Regions from separate parts of the Homo sapiens genome. Here region 2 is linked to region 1. Evidence: fine-mapped expression QTL. Tissue or cell type: monocytes. Region 1 holds a variant in brackets; the other region holds the start of a gene. All regions are shown on one strand. Distances are from middle to middle.

The links. PIP is the estimated chance that this variant, and not a neighbour inherited with it, causes the effect.
Region 2: PDE4DIP starts here. The variant in region 1 is fine-mapped to the expression of PDE4DIP in monocytes (TOPMed, PIP above 0.99).

Annotation. Positions count from the first base shown.
Region 1 is chr1:149,043,155-149,048,304 of GRCh38, reverse strand. No RefSeq gene overlaps it. Among named protein-coding and RNA genes, the nearest start is that of NBPF9, 58 kb to the left of the region's middle. The variant G/T (reference allele first, on the strand shown) is at 3,162.
Region 2 is chr1:148,841,878-148,847,027 of GRCh38, reverse strand. PDE4DIP (phosphodiesterase 4D interacting protein) reads right to left here and starts at 2,600. Exons shown (of 47, transcript NM_001395426.1): 1 at 2,234-2,600. The coding sequence starts at 2,253. RefSeq lists enhancers at 1,707-2,429, 2,430-3,151.

The sequences.
Region 1 (5,150 bases):
GAACGTGAATCACAGCTATGGTGAAGCCACAGGCTCTGGATGAAAAACCTAATCTGCCAGGGTTTGAAGTTAAACACATGAATCTTCTGTGCCTCCATTTCTATCTGTCCAATGGGCTAAATCAGAACACTTAGGTTGTCCAGTGTTTAAATGAGCAGTGCAGGAAAAGCGTGGAGCCAATGCCTGTCACGTAGTAATTGGTCAACACGCATGAGCTCCTATCAGCTCCATGGTCTCCAGCATTTCCATCAGGCTTTGATCTTTGAAATGTCCTTCTTGATATGAATGGATCATTCCTCAAACATTCTCTAACTGATGGCCATGAAATTGCTCCAATGTGTATTATTACAAATACAACTGCAGGGACCAGACTGACACATGTATCTGTCGTGCATCACTTGTTTATTTCTCCGTAGACACCTGGAGATGGAATTGTCAGACCAAAGTATTTATACATGTTTGATTTTGCTAATTTCTGTCTAAATTACTGTGAAAAGAAGATATAACATGTCATACTTTTAACATTTTTTGAGAATTATTTTTTTCTCCATCTTCTGGCCAAAACTGGGAAGTACTTGCCTACCACTTCCTCTGAACTCACTTTTGCCAACATTTGTGTAGTCATACAGTGGGATCACATTGTATGCAAGACCTCAAACTCAAATCCTTAAATGAAAGCGATTAACATGACTGTGTAAAAATTTATCTTCAAAATACAATGAATACATATATACACATACTTATATGGGAAAGGAATTATTTTATTTGGATACCTTATCAAAGTTATATATACTTGAAAATTTGTTTAGTAAAGTAGCAGTCCCCTTGTGTACTCCCAGAGTTTCATCACATAGAAGCAATTATTTCGTTATTTATCTCCTTATGTCTAAATAGATATTATTACTTTTTGATTTTCAAGTTTAGGCACTACCTCTCCTTCACATACTTGCTCATCACCACCACCCCCAAACACGCCTCTCACCACCTTACCCTCCAACACGTTTGTGTCCTCATTTGCTGGGTCAATTGCTACATTGTTATAACTTGTATATTTTATTCAGAGTTCAGTCACATTGGATATACATAGCAGGAATGAGAGGCCAGTATCTTCAGGGACTCTCTCTCAAGTAGATAAGCTTCAAAGATTTTTGCAATCTTTGGTCACCCTCCCCATCGTTTTCCTATTCCAGGTAAGTACTGGATCTGATGGGCCCAGCTCAGGTCAGGCACTCTCTCCTTGAGCAGGGGAGAGCGGGACATCTTCATGTGCAGTACCAGGAAGACACTGTCCAAAGAGGGACAGGTAGTTCTAAGACAGAAAAGTCTATCTGGGGTACAGGTAGGCAAAACAAGGACACACACACAAAAATTAGTCTGTTCTGTGAGGGGAGCATGCAGTAGAGGGTGGATTCAGAGTGGGAGGGGAGAGTTTTGAGAGATATGGGCCATGGATATCACTCTGTGGGCCGGAGCCACACAAGACGGTTGGGGTCTCTCAGGGGCAGGGAGCTGAGGAGAATCTGCCCTCCCCAACCTGGGAGACTGGTGAGGGGACTGTCCTGGTCACCAGACAGAAATGGGGTCTGGGCCAGGGCAGTTCTGGTGGGAAAGAAAGAACAGGACATCTCCTTAAGGAAAGGTCCTGAGTCAGGTCTTGGCAGGGAGGGAGGTTACCTTGTCCATTGGCAGCTGAAGATGGTTGGCCAGATGAGGGCACTGAAATCCATGTCCTCTAAACTTGTAGTTCAGTAAAAGAACGACAGCAGTAAAGGGTCTTTAGGAAGAGGAGGTGGAAGACCTGATTTGGGTTGGGGGCTCCAAGAAGAATGTCTGCCTTGCTGTGCAGAAGCCTCTGCACAACCTCCCTGGTCCCCTTGCTCAGTCTCCTGGCCAGACCCCTGTGAGCCCTGGAAGTGCACAGTCAGCTTAGCCAAGGCATCTCCAGCTGGGACTCATCCCTGGGCATTTCTGTGGCCTTGGGTGCCCTGGCCTCCTCCAGGCCCTGTCTTGCAGGCAATCGTCCTGCTAGGGAAGGGGGAAAGGAGGCTACTTGACAGTTAACTCTGAGTGGCTCCACAAGGTCCTGACTTAGCTCCTAGTCACTTGCAAACCTATATACCCCCATCTCATCCCCCAAACGATGAAAAGAAACTTTGCAGGACTCATGCCAGACAAATAGGGTGGGACCATTCTGCAGAGCCAAGTTCTCAGGACATCAATAAGAGATGGGAACCACCTGCTGGAAGGTGCCACAGTGGGAACTTTGGGGTCAGGGAGCAGTCACTGAACTGTCAGGGTGAATCCTGGCTCCTGGCCCTCACACACCCTTTCTCCCCCTCCCTCCTTCTCTCCTCCCTCCTGTCTGCTCTTTCCCCTCTCTCTCCTGAATCCCTCAGGTACCTTCCATGGGCCCTGACCCCTCCTTTTCAGAGGCTCCAAAGTGAGCCCTCAAAACACTTGGTAACCTTGGACATTTCCAAAACTGGAGAGACTTGACCACAGCATTTTTATGAGCTAGGAAGGTCCTCCAGAGCTCTTGCCTAAATTTTTCTGCTGATGAGAAGAGAACAAGAGTGTCCATCTGATCTGGTCCTAAGGCAACTGCTCCTTGGAGCAGAGTCTGGGCAGGAAGAAGGCGGTTGCCCAGGGCCCTGGACTTGCCCCTCCCAGCTGCTCTGCTCCTCTCCCCTTCACTGCGGGAGGCTGGCCAGGGATCAGGAACCTCTATTCTCCACAGATGCTGGGATTCCAGGCTCAAATCTAAATATTGGCTGATTTAGGAGGCTAAGGGAGGCAATTGGCTGGAGGGAGGTGTCAGGATTTGGGACAAGAGCAGCATCTAGTTGCCGTCCACAGAGACCCCAAGGACAGGAATCCACTGGTAGCTGGTCGGAGGGGATCCCATGAAAACAAAATCAAACGCGCGCTTTAGTACTGGACCCAAGATCAGGAGATGAAAAACTGCACTGTCCTAAGGGATGAAGGAATTAGGGAATCCCAGAAGTAAAGCTTTTCATATAGGTCATTTCTTCCAAAGAGATGTAGGGCAATGGCCCAATGATGTGAACAAAAGAAAACTCGGGGTCTAGGATTGAGGGGAGGCAGCCTTTTTAGTGGAGACCTGTGACCTGGAGGCCCAGGGTCACCCTGAGAGGGGAGGG[G/T]TCTTGCTGGTCGCTGGGTCCGGGACTCCAATTGCACACAGCCAGTGGCATGGAGGGTCTGTGACCATGATTGGGCAATTTCCCCCATTCTGCTTATAGAGCAATAGAGAGGAACCTCACTGGAATTATACAGAAAGGTCCCAGTGAGACTTGAACTCTGATCACTGTATTCAGAGTCCAAAGTGCTCACCATTACACCATGGAACCTCACACTAGCTTATAACTGGAGGTAACTGAGTTCATACTTAGCAGCCATAGTTCCCACACACCTATGTTAAGGCATTTCTTCTGATCCCTCAAGCAACACCAAGGAAGGTGGACCTGTGAGAGAGGAGTCATCCTCTTTCTCTCTGCCCTCTCCTTTGATCAACTTTTATCATTTCATTTGCACCTCAGAAAATGAGGCAAAATCCAGTTTGGGCTTAGGGCCAGAGAAGAGCCCTTGAGGCCTCCCTCATGGAAAACATACTCTCTCAGTTTACCAGAGTTTCCTGTACCAAGGGGAAATTTCTGCAAACCGTAGTGCTATATTCTTTTTGCCTTCCCTCTTTTCCCTTTGCCCAGGGAGGCCAGATGATTGTGAGAACAGGACTTGGGACTTCCTGGGTGCCTTTCCCCCTTCCTCCATGTGATAAATAATGGCTGACACCAAGCAAGTGGGATTGGGAGGCAGGGAATCTTTCATTTCCTTCTTCATATACTTCTATGCATTTGTTTGGTTGGTTTTGGCAAGATTTTCTAACCAGAAATGGAGATTTGTTGGATTTAAAATAAAAAGTAATCAGCCATGTTTTACATTTCTATAAAACACTCAAACCAGGCCATACTCCCCTGCTGTGCCTCAAAATCAACCATAAACTGTCGAGGTCAGGAGGCAGGGCCCTCACACTTAAGCACAGTGTGTTTCCTCAGAATTGGCCAAGTTGATGCCACTCCAATTTCTCAATATACCACAACCCATTAATTGCGGTTTTTAAAAGTGTACATGTATTTTTACCAAAACCCCAGGGCTTCAGTGTTCTCAGCACACAGAAAGACAATCATTGAGACATTGAGTATTGCTGAGGAAGAAGGCTTTAATCAGGTGCTGCAGCTGAGTAGACAGGAGTTGAGTCTCAAATCTGTCTCCCTGATTGACTCAAGTTAGGGGTTTATATAGCACAGAAGAAATGTAACTGTGTGTGGGAAGAGAGAAACTAGGGAGGGGTGAGGAAGCACTTGTGATGAGTGAGGGGACTGGCATCTCATTGTCTGGATGCTGTGATTGGCTGAGTTTCAGGTCTCTGATGCTTTTTGAGAGGACTGAGAGTCCTTTCCTGAGGAAGGAACTCAGATAAAACAAATATAATTTTCTTTTATAGAATGGCTTGACCTCAGGAGTTTGAAACCAGTCTGGGCAATATGGTGAAACCCTGTCTCTACCAAAATACAAAAAAAAAAAAAAAGAGGGTTGCTTCCAAGATGGCTGAATAGGAACAGCTCCGGTCTACAGCTTCAAGTGAGATAGACGCAGAAGACAGGTGATTTCTGCATTTCCAACTGAGGTACCTGGTTCATCTCACTGGGACTCGTTGAACAGTGGGTGCAGCCCATAGAGGATGAGCCAAAGCAGGGTGGGGTGTCACCTCACCTGGGAAGTGCAAGGGGTTGGGGGATTTCTTTTTCCTAGCCAAGGGAAGCTGTGAGTGACTGCACCTGGAGGAGCAGTACACTCCTGCTCAAATACTGTGCTTTTTTCCACTGTCTTTGCAACTGACAGACCAGGAGATTCCCTCTTGTGCCTGCCTCGGCAAGTCCCATGCCCATGGAGCCTTGCTTGCTGCTAGCACAGCAGTCTGAGATCAACCTGCGACATTGGAGCATGGCAGGGAGAGGGGGTTCTGCCACTGCTGAGGCTCGAGTACTTGGTTCCATGGTCACAGTGTAAACAAAGTGGTAGGGAAGCTCGAACTGGGCAGGGCCCACTGCAGCTCAGCAAGGCCTACTGCC
Region 2 (5,150 bases), 200 kb after region 1:
TATATAATTTGCGATTTTTCCAAATCATTTCTGAATTTGTCTGAAATTGTTACATGTAAATATAAAATTTTTAAAACTTAATAAATAATACTTTTTTCTTCAAGTGTGAAAAACACTGGCAGAGAGCAAAAGGCCCTGATACACTCACTCCCATCACCATCAAGTGGTCATCTAGCCTTTGCCTGAGTAACTCCAGGGTCAACAATCTCTTTACTGCCCATACTGCCCAGGCAGCTAACTTGTTAGAAAGCTTTTTTTTAATTTTTTTTTGAGACGGAGTCTCGCTCTGTCGCCCAGGCTGGAGTGCAGTGGCGCGATCTCGGCTCACTGCAAGCTCCGCTTCCCGGGTTCACGCCATTCTCCTACCTCAGCCTCCCAAGTAGCTGGTACTACAGGCGCCCGCCACCACGCCCGGCTAATTTTTTTTGTGTTTTTAGTAGAGACGGGGCTTCACTGTGTTAGCCAGGATGGTCTCAATCTCCTGACCTCGTAATCCGCCCCCCTCAGCCTCCCAAAGTACTGCAATTACAGGCGTGAGCCACCTCGCCTGGTCTTTTTTTTTTTTTTTTTTTTTTTTTTTTTTGAGGCGGAGTTTCGCTTTTGTTGCCCAGGCTGGAGTGCAATGGCTTGATCTCGGCTCACCACAAACTTCTCCTCCCGGGTTCAAGCGATTCTCCTGCCTCAGCCTCCGGAGTAGCTGGGATTACAGGCACGTGCGACCACGCCCGGCTAATTTTGTATTTTAGTAGAGATGGGGTTTCTCCATGTTGGTCAGGCTGGTCTCGAACTCCCGACCTCAGGTGATCCGCCTGCCTCAGCCTCCCAAAGTGCTGGGATTACAGGCATGAGCCACTGCACCTGGCCAGAAAGCTTTTTCTTTACACTGAGCCATAACTCGCCTCCCAACAACTCGCTTGCATCGGTTGTTCTGTCCTCCTAAGAGATTCTAATGTGATTCAATCCCTCTACCACCAATAGCTCTTCGGAAATTTGAAGGAAGCTACCACATCCTCCCCACTCCCAGTCGTCATTTCTCCGGACTCAGGAGTCCCAGGTCCTTCCTTTGGCCATCCCTCAAGGCATGGCTTTGAGTTCCCTCCTGTCTCTTGATTGTACTTATTTTATCTAATGATGCCCAGAACTAAGCACAGCCCTCTCGGAGAGGCCCAAGAGGAGCAGAAAGGAGCCAAAAGTAAAATCATCACTTTTGATCTAGACAGAATCTAGACAGCCTACTTCTTCTGTCAACAAACCCTAAGCTTCAATTTGCTCCTTCTTTAATATTCACATTATACCATTCACTCCTGTTGAGCTTAGCAATCAACTAAAAGCACCCAAGTCTTTTGCATAAGCCCCAAATTTACCTTCTGTGTTTGTACCGTCTTCACTCTCTCAGGAGTCAGAGCGCTCATTTGGCCCCACCCCAATTCTCCAAAGCTAAATCCCACAGATGGAAGCGTATCTGTTATAGAGACACCGCTGGAATAGTCTCCCTACCCTCCCACCCACTAAAAAACAGAAACGAAGTCTTTGTCTCAATACATGGTCTCTTATCCTTACCCTTTCCTTGAATGGGGCTTCATTTTAAAGTGTGTCTGGGGGAAGGACTGGAAGAAAACGCAGTTTCACAGGCCATCTCCAAAATCTGACCTAAAAGCCAACTGTTGCCTGGCCTCAATAAAGCCTGAGCAGTGTGGTGCCCTGATCTCTTTCCTTCTCCATTCCTCCCCCAAGTGGGCTCCAACTGGAGGTTGTGGAGATGAGTGCTGCTGGGCTCTGCTCACTCAGTCCCTTTGCCTTTGTGTGAGTAGTGACAGATGAGGCTGAGAAGGAAAACGTGGCAGGGTGAGAATAAACCTGATATTGTTCAAAGCATCTGACATCAAACATATCTCTCAAGAAGACCTACTGGAATCCCTCTAGCCACACGAACAAGGAAACGACAGAGAACCATTTCTACAGAAAGTTCCAGGCGGCCTCCCTGGGTATTTTTAACATCAGGACTCGGTGGAGGGGAGAGTCATTAAGCAAGGGAAACCCCGTAAAACAGAACATGTGAAAATGACCAAGAGAGGTGGGCTGGGAACCAGGCAGGGCGAGGCTACAGAAAAGGGAAGCTGTCACGGGACCCTGGTGGTGAGGGGCGACCTCTCTCTCCCTAAGGGCGCTGGGGGAGGGGAGGGAGGAGGACCACCAAGTCTGGAGCGCGGCGAGAAGGAAACAGCCCACCTACCTCGTCCAGGTCTGCTCCATTTTCCAGGCTCTTTCCTTAGTCTCAGGACGCTCCTCACCCGGGAGGGGAAGCAGCCTGGGAAAATGAGAAGCCTTGCCCACGAATCTCCAGCGCAAAAGGCAGCAGCTTTTTCCTCCCCAGCTCCTTTCTGCGTCGGCGGCGAAGAGAGAGCTCTGCTCCCTGCTTTTTTAGAAAATGGATTTGACGTGGCCGAACCTGCGGCTAGCCGTGCGACCCGCACAAGGGAGGGACTGTTCTCAGTAGGAGGCTGGACTCAGAGCGGCGCGGCGCCCGGGGCTGTTTCGTGAGCTGGAGCCAGCGGCTGCCCGGGCCGCGGTGCGCGCACTCTCCAGGCTGAGACACGACTGGCTGGCACGAGTTGCTCGGCACCAGCTGAGCTGTCAACCGCGAGCGGAGGCGGGGCTCCCGACAACCAGTGTGCTGGGGCAGAATCGGCCCAGGTTACACGCCCCCTGAACCACCCTCGCGTCTCCCCGACCCCTCTCTCGCTGGCTCAGATGAATGATGACGGCAGAGGGCAGAGAGCTTAGAGGACGCGGTACCAAGCCCCGTCCCTCGCCCATCCCAACGAAGGTCTTAGAATACAATCAACCAACTACAGGAAGAATTTGTAGAGGAGGTTTTCTTGTGTGTCTGCATCGCCCCACCCACAGGTAACCCCAGAGCCAGAGATGGAGTCTAGGAAGGTTTAGGAGCAATCCCGGCTGAATGCAGATGTATACCCTACGTGGTCATGGAACACGATGTTGTCTTCCTAGAGATGTGACATGCCAGTTTCACCATTAATCCAGGGACAGGACCCTTCATCAGGAAGGGAAGCATCCCAACAAAACCTTACAGCCCTATTAGCTGCCTGTATCCCAGACATCTCCTGTTTTAGGGTATTCTACCTCCTCGTTTTTCAGTTTCGCCAGCAACTGGGCTCTACCAATAGCTTCAAGGAGGGAGAAGCTTCCTGACTCCCAGAACACTAGAAAAGCCTCAAGACAGTAGCCATCAGGACCTCGACACTCCCTTGTGACTGTTTTAAGATCATGGAAAAGGCCTCTTTGGAGATGGCATTGCCTCAGGCCCTGTACCATGTACTTATGTATCAAGATTTAAACAAGGCAGACATACTATAATTAGAGTGCTTGCCACCCTGAAGCTCCTTTTTAGCTTTCAAATAAGACCGTTTTATTAAATGACATAATCACTGTTATTATTAGCACTATCACTGACCTTTTTTTTTATCTGAAAAAGGCTTTATAGTGCCCACATGTGGCAATGTTAATTTCGTTGTACTTGTTTCAGAGATGATAAATTTGAGACCCCAAAAGGCCCAAAGTCTCTGCTAAGGTTCTGATACAGGCTGTGTTCTCCATTGGGTGGCCCCAGAGATATGTTCCCTGAATTTCTAAAGCTACGACCCACAAGACTTCTCCAGGATGAATTTATTCTTTCAGGCCTCCTAGGCATTTAACTCAGGAAGAACCTGGCATGCCTGGGTATTGGTGAGACTGTGGGGAGTCTGTGTTCTTGGGGGAACCTGTCATCTGTCTGTTATCTCTTGGATTGGTTCCCCTACATACTAGTACAAAGTAGGGGTGGGGAGGGGAGGATAACAAAACATTTGAAGGTTTAGCAGAACTGTCTAAAAAGCCCCTAGTCTAGACTCCTCCAACACTTGATTTATTGGTAGGACCACACTGCTCCAGAGCTCAAAATGTTACCAGGAAAAATTTCAAGGTCCAGTTTGATCTTAGACAAGGCTCACAGGCCACCTGTCTTGAAAAGAATATCCTGTTGCCTCTGATGGGGGGGAAGAAAAGGCAGGGAGAGTCAGATTCCCATCCTTCATACCAAAGTTGGGGCTATATTTAGCTTTGTCTCAAATCAAATTATGGGCTACCGAGTTGTGGAGAGGAACTCTGTCTACAGGCAGCTCACTGGATTCAAGAAATGATAGCACTAACTAGGTGAGCTGTGGGGTCTCAGAAGTGACGCTAGAAAATACGTTCATGTATTTTTAAAATAACTTTTTTCAAAAGTTTATAGCACATTCATTGTAAAAACATTTGAAAAATACAGAAAGTTATATAGATTACTCAGAATACCCAGGGATCTTCAATATTAAAAATGTGTTGCATTTTTTTCCCACTCTTTAAAAAATGCATCTTTTAATCCAAACACCAACTCTTTCTTACACACATGGGTATATTCTTGAGAAGAGAAATTTCCTTGTTGTTTTAAAAATTATACTTATTGTCAAAAGAACAATTTTTTTGCGTTAGATTTCAGAAGAAAAATATTCACCCATATAACCACTGCTACAGCACAAATGTTTAAATTTCTCCAAATTCCCTTTAGTCATTATCTATATATATTAAATATCTATTTACATAATTACGATTACAGCTTAGGTATATGTTTATATTCTCCTTCTTTCACTTAGTAAATATTTGTCCATGTTTTTAGGGAAAGTTCATAGTTATTATTCTAATGAGTGTACAATATTTTATAATATTAGTAGGACCATAGATTACTTAAAATATTCTACTATTGCATAGTTATGCTGTTTCTGATATTAGACTGTTATAAATAATGCCTTAATGAAGAGCTTTCTGCCTTTATCATTCTCCTTTTTTGAATTATGCTATGGTTGAATGTATGTATGCCTTCAAAATTCATACATTGGTACTTAACACCGAGTGTTATAGTACTACAGGGTGGGGCCTTTTAGGAATATGTCTTAGGAAGTGATAAGGCATGAACACTCCACTCTCATGAATGGGATTAGTGCTCTTAAAAAAGAGGTTGAAAGGATTGCTCTGGTCCCTTTTGTCCTCTGTCCCTCCAGCCATGTGAGGACACAGCATCTGTGGCAACAAGGAGCCATCTTGGGAGCAGAGAGCAA